Linked DNA regions of Homo sapiens. Each later gene encodes a partner of the first gene's protein in a complex. Each region holds a gene or a part of one and is shown in the gene's direction. Other genes may lie near its edges.

The links.
Region 2: CETN3 (region 1) and NUP98 share a complex: the UniProt entries of both Homo sapiens proteins name them as parts of the nuclear pore complex.
Region 3: CETN3 (region 1) and NUP214 share a complex: the UniProt entries of both Homo sapiens proteins name them as parts of the nuclear pore complex.
Region 4: CETN3 (region 1) and NUP93 share a complex: the UniProt entries of both Homo sapiens proteins name them as parts of the nuclear pore complex.

Annotation. Positions count from the first base shown.
Region 1 is NC_000005.10:90,396,257-90,399,756, reverse strand, and holds part of CETN3 (centrin-3), read left to right. Parts: intron 1-207; coding exon 208-399; intron 400-3,192; coding exon of another isoform or gene 3,193-3,264; intron 3,265-3,500. UniProt on the Homo sapiens protein: Plays a fundamental role in microtubule-organizing center structure and function. As a component of the TREX-2 complex, involved in the export of mRNAs to the cytoplasm through the nuclear pores.
Region 2 is NC_000011.10:3,721,055-3,724,554, reverse strand, and holds part of NUP98 (nuclear pore complex protein Nup98-Nup96 isoform 1 precursor), read left to right. Parts: intron 1-1,099; coding exon 1,100-1,398; intron 1,399-3,500. UniProt on the Homo sapiens protein: Plays a role in the nuclear pore complex (NPC) assembly and/or maintenance. NUP98 and NUP96 are involved in the bidirectional transport across the NPC. May anchor NUP153 and TPR to the NPC.
Region 3 is NC_000009.12:131,226,586-131,230,085, forward strand, and holds part of NUP214 (nuclear pore complex protein Nup214), read left to right. Parts: intron 1-1,574; coding exon 1,575-1,746; intron 1,747-3,500. UniProt on the Homo sapiens protein: Part of the nuclear pore complex. Has a critical role in nucleocytoplasmic transport.
Region 4 is NC_000016.10:56,841,629-56,845,128, forward strand, and holds part of NUP93 (nuclear pore complex protein Nup93), read left to right. Parts: intron 1-76; coding exon 77-205; intron 206-2,870; coding exon 2,871-2,981; 3' UTR 2,982-3,500. UniProt on the Homo sapiens protein: Plays a role in the nuclear pore complex (NPC) assembly and/or maintenance. May anchor nucleoporins, but not NUP153 and TPR, to the NPC. During renal development, regulates podocyte migration and proliferation through SMAD4 signaling.

The DNA of each region.
Region 1 (3,500 bases):
TAAAAAAGGTTAACATTTAAAATATGGATTTGATTTTTCTAATTTCAGGTTTATCTCGGGGTTTGGGGATCTCATTTGACATTTTATTGTCAGACTAAAAGTTGACAGTCACAGCTTTAATTCTCATCTAATATTTAGTTGATTTCACAAATGAATGCCTTTGTGATTATGCAGGTTTATTAAAATATATATGTTTTTAAACTGTAGTGACAGACTGGATATTGGAAAGAGATCCCCATGAAGAAATACTCAAGGCATTTAAACTATTTGATGATGATGATTCAGGTAAAATAAGCTTGAGGAATTTGCGACGTGTTGCTAGAGAATTGGGTGAAAACATGAGTGATGAAGAACTTCGAGCTATGATAGAAGAATTTGACAAAGATGGTGATGGAGAAAGTAAGTTTTAAGTGAAACGTATTTTCCAGGTTTTCCTGATGCTACACATGTAATACATTTTTCTAAAACCAAATGACTTGCAAGACTTTTTTGTAAACTTAACTGCTTCTTGTAATGGACCTTCTGTCTAAATAATTCACATATTCAATTTAGAATGAAGCAGATCTCTAAAACCAATTATACTTCAAGAAGGTCCTTCACTTTTCTCTGAAGGTGAAACCACCAAAATTTCAGCCTTTCAATATAATTTCAGTCTTTAATGGCTTCTCCCTCAACCTACATGCTAAGTTCTAAGTTCTATTGATTTTCCCCTTCAAATGTTTTGAATCTGTTTTTATCTTTGTCCATTGTGGCTGTCCTAGTTCAGGCCCTAATTTCTAGTTAGGAATGTTATAATGGCCTCATTTATTCTTGCCTTGGCTGCCTACTGGGTGCAGTGTCCTGCGTGTTGACTGGTGCTACACAATGAAAAAGGCAGATGTGGTTCTTGCTTTCACTTTGCAGTCTCTTGTAGTGTCCTAATTGCCCTTTCGGCATATAAAAGTCTCTAATCTCTTCTTCAGTCTCTTGGTATCATTCTTTTCCTAAAATATACATTTGATAATGCCATTTCTGTGTTTAGACACTTGAAACGATTCTTCAGTGCCTACAGAGTAAAGTTCAAAGCCTTCTATGATCTATCCCACCTTGAGTAACTGATTTTACTTTCCAGTGTATTCTTTCACTTTTCTTCTTTAACCCTCACCTCCTGTATGTACACATTTTGTCAACATATGCTATCCTGAAAACACATTTTTATGCTATTCGTTTCATCCTGCTGTTTCTTAATCTTAGAATGCTCTAATTGTTAATTTCTGCCTGCTAAAATGTGATTCATTCTCTCAGGTAAATATTAAACACCATCTTTTTCCCAAAAGCTTCCCATAACGCTCTATGAATCATGAGACTTCCATTGAAGGCCTATAGCATTTAGAGAAACAAATTGTTTTGATACTTTCATACACTTAATATGGAATCTTTTGGCTGGAAACTAAGTTTTGTTGAGATAAAAACCACTTTATTTGTATGTTAAACTGCTAAAGATTAGACCTTGCTGTCTTTTTTGTGGACTTTAGTGTTCTTCTCTCTTTGTGACTTTTTCATGCTTTTCAGTATCTAAGAGCAATGAAATTTTAAAAATATTGGGTATATAGAATAATAAACATGGTGAATGTGAAGTTAAAGGTAAATAAGATGTACTACAAGATAGACATAAAGCTGTGGTAATGATACAGAAAGAGTCACTTCCCCCTGCCCCCTCAACAGCATATATAAAATAAAACACAGCACATCTTTTGGAAAAAATGAAAGGAACGTTTTGAAAAGCCAGAATGGATAATCTTTTAAATAATGATGATGTTTTTTAACATTTATTTAGCAGCTACTATATTGGATATTAGCATTAATTATGTCACTTAATTTCCATAATAACTTGTAAAGTAGATATAGTATTATACCTATACATGTGTATAATAGATGCATATATAGAGATGAGGAAGCTAAAGCTTTGAGAGATTATTAATCTGCCCAGGTTATCACAAAGCTAATACTGTACATGGTAGAGCCAGAACTCAAAATCAAATCTCCAAAATGGCAAAGAATGTGCTTTTAAACGTAATATTGTATTGCCTTTCGGGCTATGAAGTAAAATATTAACTAGACTTCTATGTTTATGGAGTTTTAAAAATTACATGCTATTATAGGAAGCAGTGTATTAGCAACATACTCAGTTGGAACTTCCAATTCTAAGATTTGCTTTTCCCCTTCAAAGCCAGATGGTCTCTAAGGTACTTAATCTACTTAGTTCTGTAAAATTCTTATTGTTAGCAACTTGTAATAAGATTTGCTCTATGAAATGGTTGATGTATGAAAAATTTTGTTAAAGAAGGCAGTATAAAAGGAAACAAAGTGTCATATTTTCTTGATTCAATAAATGTTTTACCAAAGCTTATTTTAAGCTAGGCATTGTGGTAGATTTATTAGATATAGGAACTTGATATAAGATATTGTTAATAGAGAAGGTTATAAAATCAAATGCACAGAGATATAGAAGATTGTCTTTTAATTGTCTACAAGACAATTAAAGTAAAGTAGCTAGTTTAATTTCCTGAGCCACTTTCTAATTTTTACTTTCTTGGGTTTAAGTAGTGTGTTTTTAGGTATGAATCATGGAATTCAGTTGTCCCTTGATAAGCACAGGGGATTGGTTCCAAGTCGCTTAAGGATGCCAGAATCTATGGTGCTCAAGTCCCTTGTATAAAATGGCATAGTATTTTCATATAACTTTCACATATCCTCTTGTATACGTTAAATCATCTCTAGATTACTTATAATACCTAATACAATGTAAATGCTATGTAAATTGTTATACTTTATTTTATTTGTATTATTTTTTATTGTGTTATTTTCCCAAATATTTTTCATCTGCAGTTGGTTGAATCTGCAGATGTGAGGAACCTGTGGTTACAGAAGGCTGACCGTATTTTAAATACTTTTGAAATGCTATTATAGTTTAAAGTTTTTGTATATAAACAATATAAAAATTAAGTGTTTTGTGGTTTTCAAACTTATATATGAAACTTAAAATTTGCAGTTTGAGTATTGAAATTTTACAGATCAAGAAAAAGTTCTAGATCTTTAAGTAACAAGTACTTTTTGGATTTTGAATATTTTAATCATGGATGTATTACACTGTTAAAATGATTTGTAATCAAATCATTCTAAGGCTGTTTTATGTTTTTTCTCTTAATACAGTTCTTAAGAACATACTCTTGCTTCCTATTTGGTCTAGATGCCTCAGTCTAAATCGGGAGTTCTTCAGTGAAGGTGCACACTGGCTAAACTGATTAATAATTTTATATATTTGAACTGTATTTATTGGAAAGAGAGAGGGATCATAGCTTTCCTAAGATATTCAGACATGGCTATTTAACTGCAAAGGTTAAAGATCACTACATCAATTTGTAAGATTCTTGAAAGTAGTTTGGAGTATTACAGATTTTGTATTACGTTCTTACCATGTTTGTCATAGTGTTTTGTAGATGTTAAATACTGATTGCATG
Region 2 (3,500 bases), on another chromosome or scaffold:
CTCCTAAAACGTTGGTATTACATGCGTGAGCCACCGTGCCCAGCCTTGTACAGTGATTCTTAATAGTTAGGTATATATTCTTTCATATCAGAAATTTATTTATTTATTTTTTTTTTTTGAGATGGAGTTTTGCTCTTATTACCCAGGCTGGAGTGCAGTGGCACGATCTCGGCCCACTGTATCCTCTGATGTGAATTGTTCAAGCAATTCTCCTGCCTCAGCCTCCTGAGTAGCTGGGATTACAGGCATGCACCTCCACGCCCAGCTAATTTTTTTTGTATTTTTAGTAGAAACAGGGTTTCGCCATGTTGGTCAAGCTGGTCTTGAACTCCTGACCTCAAGCGATCCACCCGCCTCGGCCTCACAAAGTGCTGGGATTACAAGCGTTATCCACCACACCCAGCCGAAATTTCTTTCTTTATAAATATATTTTATTATATAAAGATTATGCACGAATGATATATTCTGTAACCTGCTTATTTCCATTTATTTTATTAGAAATGCCTTTCCATTATCTGTATGAATATATTTGTCTTTTCTTTTTTAATGATTGCATAAGTCATTATTGTGAATGTAAGATAACTTGACCAGTTCCTTGTTAGTGGACATTTAGATTATCCGGTATTCCTGTACTCAAAACAGTGCTTCAGTAAAAATCCTTATATACTGGCACAAGTTCTCAGGGCCTCCTGAGGGCTGTATCACGAAAAAGAAAAAAAAAAAAAGAAACCCTTTGTATAGACACCTTTGTACTCCTGTTTTTTTTTTCTTTTGGATAAAATTCTAGTGTTTTTTATTATTATTATTATTTATAAAGCATTTTTTAACATTTTGTTGATTGTAATCTTAAAAATCTAACATTTTTTTCAGTTTTTAATCTTAAAATTAACCAATTATTTGATTCCATATAGGAGAGTATACAATAGAGATAGTAATTATCTGTTTCACAGTACTGCTGTAGTAAGTATTAAGTGAATTTTTAATACATGGAACTATCCAGAACAGTGCCAGGCACTTAGTAAAGGCTCGGTATTAGTTAGCTATTATCATTGTTATTACTACTACAAGAGGCTAAGGTATTATTTCTTTTCCTTTGCAGATTTAGTTTCCTAAGCAAACCTGTTGATGAGAATCACCAGCAGGATGGAGATGAAGATTCCCTTGTTTCACATTTTTATACTAACCCTATTGCCAAACCTATTCCTCAAACCCCAGAAAGTGCTGGAAATAAACACAGCAACAGCAACAGTGTGGATGATACCATTGTTGCATTAAACATGCGTGCTGCTTTGCGAAATGGGCTGGAAGGAAGCAGTGAAGAAACGTCTTTTCATGATGAGTCACTTCAGGATGACCGAGAAGAAATAGAAAATAATTCTTACCATATGCACCCAGCAGGTCAGGTTCAGATTGGTGCATGTTTAATCTCTTACCAGTCATTCGAGATGACTTGCTTGTTGCAGATATTCAACATATGGAAGTCAGCTGTTTGGCATTTTAAGTATTATTTTATGTGATCCCACATAGGAGAGCTTAATATTTAAACAGTTTTATGCTTTAGTTGATTCAGAGTTCACATACTCTTTGGACCTTAGAGTATGAAAATTGATACATCTTTAATTATCCTGGTGTAGTCTAAAGAACCCAAATTTTATAGCCAAAGAGACTATCCTGATATTTTCCCTGGCTTTGTAAACTCGGATAGATTGCTTATTGTTTTTTGTTTGTTTGTTTGTTTTTTCTTGAGACAGTGTCGCTCTGTCGCCCAGGCTGGAGTGCAGTGTCGCAGTCTTGGCTCACTGCAACCTCAACCTCCAGGGATCAGGACCTCTCATCTCAGCCACCCGAGTAGCTGGCACTACAGGCACATGATACCACACCCCGTTAAGTTTTGCATCTTTTGTTTTGCCATGTTTCCTGGGCTGGTCTCAAAATCCTGGGCTCAAGTGATCCTCCTATCTTGGCCTCCCAAAGTGCTAGGATTACAGGCATGAGCCACCATGCCCAGCCCATTTTGGGTGTTTTGTGGTATTCTTGAAGTGTCTCCAAAATTTATATTTAGTTTTCTTATTGCCATTATATATATATATATATTTGGTTACTTAGTATCATAAGGAAAGAAGTTTATACTTTGACAGTAAGAATCCCAGGTAGCCTGGGTGTGGTGGCTCAGCACTTTGGCAGGCTTAGGTGGGAGGATCGTTTGAACCCAGAAGTTTGAAATCAGTCTGGGCAACATAGCAAGACCTGATATCTACAATAAACTTAAAAGTAATTAGCCAGGTGTGGTGGCATGTACCTGTAGTTGCAGCTACTACGGAAGCTGAGGTGGGAGGATCACTTGAACCCAGGATTCAAGGTTGCAGTGAGCTATGATTATGCCACTGAACTCCAGCCTGGGTTGACAGACCAAGATCCTGTCTCCTAAAAAAAAAAAAAAAAAAAAAAAGAATTCCAGGTGCTTAATCTGTATTTGTGTATGTATCTCTACATGAATTTATTATGCTACTATATATCTTTTTAATAGGAAGTTTTATATTCTAGTTTTTTCATTTACCTTGTTTGCTGCCACCCAATTTAGAGTTCCCTTCCCAAGAAGCAAGTATACAAGTGGGTGTTGCTGGAGGCTGGAGTTTGGTCTGATGTTGGCCTGAAATACTTTTCTCTCAGAGAGCAAGTTAGCCTTATATCTGACTACAAGTAGGACAAGGAGTGAATAGAGCAAGCAAGCACACCAGCGTTCCACTACTTTCCTTGAGTTTTTCAGCGCTCTGCTTTTTTTATTTTGGTATTTTTTTTTCTATTTTAATTTATTCTTTCTTTCTTCTTTTCTTCCTTCCTCCCTCCCTCCCTTCCTTCCGAGTTTCACTCTTGGTTGCCCAGGCTGGAGTGCAGTGGTGTGATCTCAGCTCACTGCATCCTCTGCCTCCCAGGTTCAAGCGATTCTCCTTCCTCAACCTCCCGAGTAGCTGGGATTACAAGCACCCGCCACCATGCCCAGCTAATTTTTGTATTTTTGGTAGATAATGGATTTTTGCCATGTTAGCCAGGCTTGTCTTGGACTCCTGGCCTCAAGTGATTTACTCACCCCGGCCTCCCAAAGTCCTTGGATTACAGGCATGAGCCACCTTGCCTGGCTGGATTTTTCATCTTTCTTTTAGCTCTTTATTTGGGAGTGTAAATTTGAAAAATAAAAGAGGTTTATGCAAAACAGGCAATGAAACAAGAAGAATTGGGTTTGGAGTTTTATATCTACTTCTATTGTTAAATTACAGTATAAGCCAACACAAGTTATTTCCACTGTAGGTTTTGGTATCCTTGTGTGTAAAATAAAATAAAAAGCTGATTAAGCTTTTCTCAGAGTATTTTATGAGATACCTTTTATAGTCCGGGATGTTAATGGGTGTCCTTTGAAAATAATGTTCTGTGGTTAAATCTGGAAAAACACGAGGTTAAGCAGAGTTTAATAGGCTATTTACTGTAAGTTTTAGACTCTTTGA
Region 3 (3,500 bases), on another chromosome or scaffold:
TCAGTCTTAAATAATTCAACTGTAAGGGTTTTTTAGCACTTTTTTTTTTCCAGTCTGTTATATTTATAACCCAACAGTCTCCATTATCATGGCTTGGAATTTCACTCAGTGTTTTAACATGCGGAATGTTAACCCAAACACGAGCCTTAGCAAAAAAGTATCTTCTCAGTTGTGCAGCCTACCACTGTTAATGGCAAATAGGCACATGAGTGAATCACAAAATAACAGTTAACTGAGGGATTCAGCTGACAACTTTTCATACCCAGGATTTGATCTTTCCTGATTCAGATGGCAGAAGCTTGTGTTGTGATTACATAAACAATAAGAAGTCTGGATTTCATCCCTCTAACAACAGATTGACTTTCTGAAAGGGGAGAAAAGGCTTGTCGCTAGGCCACCATTACTCCCGCTAGCACGCAGTTCATAGGCCAACACTCACCTTAAGAAGTACTCCCTTTAGAGGGTGCTCCCAGTTAGAGCACATTTCTTATGCCATTCTATTCCATTCATTCAAGAAGACACTCACTGAGTGTCTATTCTAATACTTTAGAATGATTTCAGCAGTATCTTGGAAGTTTGGGAACCCGCATCAGGAATAGCTCAGGAGAGGATGTTTTGTCTTCCTGCCTGACAGGCATCACCAGCAATCAGAGTAGGGTGCCCTGTGCGTGACCTGACCCTTGTCTGTGTGGCCACCTGTGTGGTGCTGCCCTCTGGCAGCCTGAGCCCACTGGGCAGCAGTGTTGGCAACGTTGCAGAAGGCATCTGAACTCTAGGGCTGTCCTCACTGTTGACTTATTATTTTATTAGATTTATGCAGCAGCCTGCCTCCAAAGAAGAAATTTGGTGTGTTTTTTCATTGGGAAGTAATTCCAGACTGCAGGAAAAAAGCATTTAAAAAAAAAAAAACAAACCTCCACTGAGCGAGAGAAAGGGAGACTCTGATGAGAGACGTAGGAGCCATCAGGCTGTAAATAAATAAAAAGCACCTGGCTGGGCGCCAGCATACACGTCTCTGTCTCTGCTATGACCCAATTCAGGGATTCTCCCTGAGAGGAGGTTTTGAGCCTCTGATTTTATAATTTGGGTTTCTATGAAGCTGGATGTCTTGCCTGTGTACTGATAAGTAATATAGTCTGTCATCTTTTGTCAGCTAGGTAGGGATTGGAGTTTTTGAGAATGGTTTTTCACTCCAAACAGCTCAGAGGACCTGGGAGGGGTGGAAGGTGCACCGAGTGGGCTCTTGGAGGTCTGCTCACACGGCTTCACAGTGACTTCACAGGGTCTGCAGGAGCTCTCCTGAGTGGACCCCAGAGCCCTCTGCTAGGAATGGAGGGGAGTGGTTTGGTTTGAGGGCTTTTGTTTTGTTGTTTTCATTACTATTTTCTTGATAGAAGGGCGGGGGGGAGGGGGGGTGTTGCCCTTTACTCTAGTTCTTGCATTTGAATTGCTAACATCCTCTTTTCCCTTTTTTCTTCCTATTTTGATTTGGTTTCTCATTGCTCAATGTCTTCTCTTCCTGTCTCCTCCTTTCTTTCTCCCTATTTCTGTTTGTTTGCCTCTGTTTTGCTCAGGTGGCTTCGGTGCTGCTCCAGTGTTTGGCAGCCCTCCTACTTTTGGGGGATCCCCTGGGTTTGGAGGGGTGCCAGCATTCGGTTCAGCCCCAGCCTTTACAAGCCCTCTGGGCTCGACGGGAGGCAAAGTGTTCGGAGAGGGCACTGCAGCTGCCAGCGCAGGAGGATTCGGGTAAGCCCCCTGGGGAGGGCCCTTGGGAACCCACACGCCAGCCAAAAAGCACTAGGGGCCTGTACTCTTGCTCTGAAAAGAAATTTGACCATGAGGTGAAGGCCCCTCCCTTGAAATTTGTGAACAACTCCCTCAAGGATTCCTGTACCTCTCCAGGGTAAGACTCATTTCGTTCAAGCCAGGCTTTGTTGAATTCATGGTGGACCTCAGCTGTGTTGCTGTTCCCTGGTATGAGAAATGCTGGTCATCAGAGCCCCTGTTCTCCTGCTGGGGCTAAAGGAAGGCACCAGCCCTGCCTTAACTACTGCTTTGTAGCCAAGAGGTGCCCCGGTGTGGAGCTTCTGTTAGGAAGTCCTCAATGAATGGTTTTCACCAGATTCTTTCCTCTTGGGATTATTCTGTGTTAGACCCGTTGTCCTTGAACAAACAACTCCCTGTGTCCCCTGCTCCCCTGCAGCCCCCCAGAGTGAGTATTCAGTTGCACAGGTCCTCCCGTGGGAAGATCCTGGATGATCAGGGATTTCGAAGCTGCTCTCATTGCCTCGTGTGCGTCTGCACTGGAAAAGGCCATTTTTAGGGAGTCGCTTTTAAGGGCAGAATTTCAGTGTGGTTGCCAAAACCCCAAGGGAAAAAAACCTTCACCACACCACAACATCCCAATTTAAAAAATGTACACGGGATGACTACCAAGTCTCTTGTTCAAAGGAGGTGTCGATGCCTGAAAGGAGTTCTAAAACGCCTCTTGCCGCAGTACTGGGCTCAGCATGAGCTGAAGGTTTGGGGGAGGGGAGATGATTTTGTCTAGGGGAATTGTTGAGATACTTGGATCTGAGTCTTGGCAAGATGACAGCATCTTTATCTTGAAAATAAACTATAGTATGTTCTTACTCACACCCTTCCCCTCCGTGCAAGATGCTGGAGCGCAGCAGCAGGAGTGAGAGGGTTGGCGTGCTGCTTCTCCTGTTTCACGGGAGACTGATGCCTTAGGTTTGCCCTCAGGAAACCCCAAGAATTAAAGTTAAGGAAAGCTTTGAAAGGACAGTTAGAGACCCACTTAGGCTGGTATTCTCAGAGGTCTTAATGGATGCTGTTCTCTGCAGTGATGAACCAGCACACAGTACCACAGAGTTGGTAGAAGGTTTGGGTTGGCTGGGTATCTTGTGAATTGATTTATTTATTTGAAACCAGCTGTTTTCTTTACTAGTAGAAAAGTATATTCTGCCTTGGGGCGGCTCTCACACAAATCCCGATTGGCTGGTTAGTCAGTCCTAAAAAAGGTTAATGCCAGGTCAGTTATTAAATCTCCATAAGAGCCCATTACCTTCTTCCAGGTCCCTGGCCATGAGCCTGTCTCCGACCCTGAAGGGCAGGCTGTTGCTGATGAGGCCCAAGGCAGGAGGAGGAAGGGAGCAGGCCGCTCCTGGGAGAAAGTCCAATGAGAGCAGATCCCTTGGCCACCTTTGTATGGAAAGAGCCTTGACCTCACCATTAAAAGTGAATAGAATGGTGGGAAGGCAGAGTTTTAGATACTTTTTCTTGCTTTGGGGTTGATTCTTGCCCCCAGGTGCTGCCCCTTCTCCCAGAAACCACTGATCCGTTTCCCTCACCTAGTCACCTCCAGACCCCAGAAGCTCTCCCCAACCCAGCCGAGTTCCTCTGCAAACAATTCAAGGGGCTCTGATAGGTCACACAGTGCCACCTTGTGTGCTGGACCATATCTGGAGGGAGAACTGAGTGAGGGGGCACAGGGGATT
Region 4 (3,500 bases), on another chromosome or scaffold:
GCCCACCCTCCCTCCATCTGTGGTTGGCCCCAAAGGCTTGGTTCTTTTTCTTTACTCTGTTTTTCTCTCTATGTAGATCAGGCACAACCTCTCAGAAGTGCTTCTTGCCACCATGAACATCTTGTTCACACAGTTTAAGAGGCTCAAGGGGACAAGTCCATCCTCGTCATCCAGGCCCCAGCGAGTCATCGAGGACCGCGACTCTGTAAGATCCCAGCATTCGCGAGAAACATTGCTAAGCACCACCTTTCTGGTTTGGAATCCGTTGCGCTCTTATGAGACCACATGACCCAAAACTGCTCTTTCTCCTCAGTACCTGGCAGCTGGATAAATCTCGTGTTAGGAGGCTCCCAGAGGAAATCAAATATTAAAGGGATTGCTGCTCTTCTCAAGCTTAAAAAAATAAAAAGATGTACTAGGTCTGCAAATCTTACCTTTTAACAAATCAAACAGAATGCTAATTTCTAGTTGACTCCATAAGAACTTCCTGCACATTTTAAAAGATAAGTTTATTTTGTTAGTCCTAGCTCATTAGTGAACACTTTTATTAAAACCATACTTTATTTTTGATCAACACATTAATGTGAACCCTTGTTTCTCCTGTCACCTGTGTTCACAGTGACCCTAGAGAGGTAACTAGGACAGCATCTTATCCCCTCTCACAGCTGAGGAAACTGAGCTGTGGAGTTGGGAAGCAACTGCCCTCAGGTGGCAGGTAGGTGAAGGGGCCATGTCTGGAGGCTGGGTCTCTCTGACACCTGTGCCCTTTCTGCTGCCTGTGGGACCTCCAGCAGTGCATGGGTCAAGTGGAGTCCAGGTAGCTAGAACCCTGGGGCTCACAGCATATGTTGTCTGATTACAAAAAAAAAGAGCAAAGGTATTTTTTGACCCAGTTAAACCATAAGGGGACAGTCCAATGGTGTTTGCTTTTTTTTTTTTTTTGAGGCAGGGCCTGGCTCTGTTGCCCAGGCTGGAATGCAATGACACGATCTCAGCTCACTGCAACCTCTACCTCTTGGGCTCAAGCCACCCTCCCACCTCACCCTCCCAAGTAGCTGGGACTACAGGTACGCACCACCACACCCAGCGGAGTTTTGTACTTTATATAGAGATGGAATTTTACCATGTTGCCCAGACTGGTCTCGAACTCCTGAGCTCAAGAGATCCCCCAACCTCGGCCTCCCAAAGTGCTAGGATTACAGATGTGAGCCACCGTTCCCGGCCCCACAATAGTGTTTTTTAAAATTACCTTTCCTTTAACCTTTCCACTTAATTTTTGATGAGACTCTCAGCATCTCAGTGTCTAACATCAGACCTGGTTTTGGCAGCCAAGAAGCCTTGATCTGTCTTCTGCCTCCAAGATGTCTGTGAGCTCTTTCCACTGTGACCCCACAGGCATGGTTGTTGACAAAACTTGTGCTTAGTGAAAGATGGCGGAAATTTCCACCTTTAGGAATGTGGGTAACAGTGCTCAAGAGTGGTCCACTGAAGCGGTCAGCCCATCCAGGTGTGCACCAGAGCATTTGCTGGTCTTCTGCCTACCCCGGACAGATAGGAGTCTAAATGTCAGATGTGCCAGCGGTGGGTTCATGGTGCCCACCATTTGGCAGGAATCTTTTTTGATGATAGAAACCCAGGGCAGTGATGTTTGTGAATGTGAGTATTGAGATGGTGGATACTTCTTGGTGCTCTGTGTGCTGCTTACAGTTCAGTGGGGCTTGCCCACTGAGAAGAGCTGGTCCCCTGGCAGGCCATGTCTCATGTCTGAAGATCATTCTCCTGCCTTCCTTTTGCCCACCACTCTCCTTTTTCTTTCTTTTTCTGAAAGGTAGGGAGGGATAGGATTAAGTAAAAGGTTATCTATAAAAGCTGCGTGCCCAAGAAGTCTGCAAGCCCACTGACGTCCTTGGTTTCATGGTTTAAAGTGAGATGCTGCCTAGTAAAGGGGTGAATCCTTTTACTTGAACATCCCTAGAGCTCATTTAACGAGAGCCCTTTTATTCACTTCTAAAGAAAATACAGTGGATATTCACATCACAAAGTCAGATTTCTTTTTGTTTGGACATCAATAAGGACATACACTCGCTAGTTTGTTTTACACATCAGGTAAAAAGCATTTGCTTTTCCGTTTTCTTCTGGAATGGTCCTTAAGTAAGCCTAGTAGATGACTCCTCAGTGTTTCTTTAAATTCTTGTTACTAGTCCAGAAAGGTGTTGGTGGTAGATTTCTCCCTTTCTAGTCCAGATTTGGTTTAAATTTGTAGGGCCACCTTTTTCCATCCTGAACAATCCAGGAATTCCATAAATACTGTTGCCTGGGGAAAGAAGGGCTAAGCATGTATGTCGGGAAGGGAGAAACAGGAGGAATGAAAGGAAGGAAGAGGAAAGATGCATGGGAGGAAGAGAGCTGGATTGGGACTGCACAGTCACAGCCCTTGCCTCCGGTGTCACAAGGGCTTCATGGGGCTCTGGAGAGTCAGATCCCTGTGAAAGCAGATGGACAGAAACCAGCCAGAGAGAGAGGCTCAGAAGATTGGAGCAGGCAGTTCTGAAGCTCAGGGCTGTGTCAAAAGCTAGCCAAATGTGTTGGGGCGAGGCGGCTTGCCTGGCAAACCCATCTGCTTTTTGCTTAATAGATGGGTTTGGATGCCTGTGGAACAGAGGCCTCGGGGGACGAGCTTTGTTAACTTTGTGTTATGTTGAAGGAATGTGACAGAGGAGGGTATGACTGTCATCCACCCATCAGGGATCTGTCCCTGACACGCTGGGGTAGAGGATGGAAGAACATGGAATAGAGGATGGAAGAATATGGAATAGTGCCCTGACTCGAAAGTTAACCGATTTCCTTCCCTTCCTTCCCTTCTCTCTCAGCAACTCCGAAGTCAAGCCCGCACTCTGATTACCTTTGCTGGAATGATACCATACCGAACGTCTGGGGACACCAATGCGAGGCTGGTGCAGATGGAGGTCCTCATGAATTAAGTGCCATGCTTTGTGGGAGTCTGGGTCGGCACACTGTCAGTACATCAGGCACATGGGCCCACTAGGCTGGGGTTTCTGGTTTTGTTTCTGTTGTGTTTTGTTTTGGTTTCTGTATTATGTATTTTTGTCAACGCCAATAAATTTCTTTGATTTGTATTTCTTTTCAACATTCTTTTATTTTCTTTTTTTTTTTCTTTGAAATTTTGTTTACATTTTTATTTGTGTAATGGGAAATACCGTCACTAGCTCTTGGGCCAGGGAATGAGAGGCTATGTAGATATTCATTATTTGGTTAAATTGACCTTAATTAATTAAAAATCTACCCAAAATGAGCCAGGAAACAAAGCCTTTGGGAGTTACTTTTATTTAGATATAATATTCCATATAGCAGAGTCACGATTCATTTTCACATTTTTATTTGAATGTGAAAGTCAACCTCAGCCTTAGAAGATGTAAGATTTGTGTGTGAAATATCAAGCACTCCATGTCCTCCTCTAGAGAGTGTGACTTAAGTCCAGA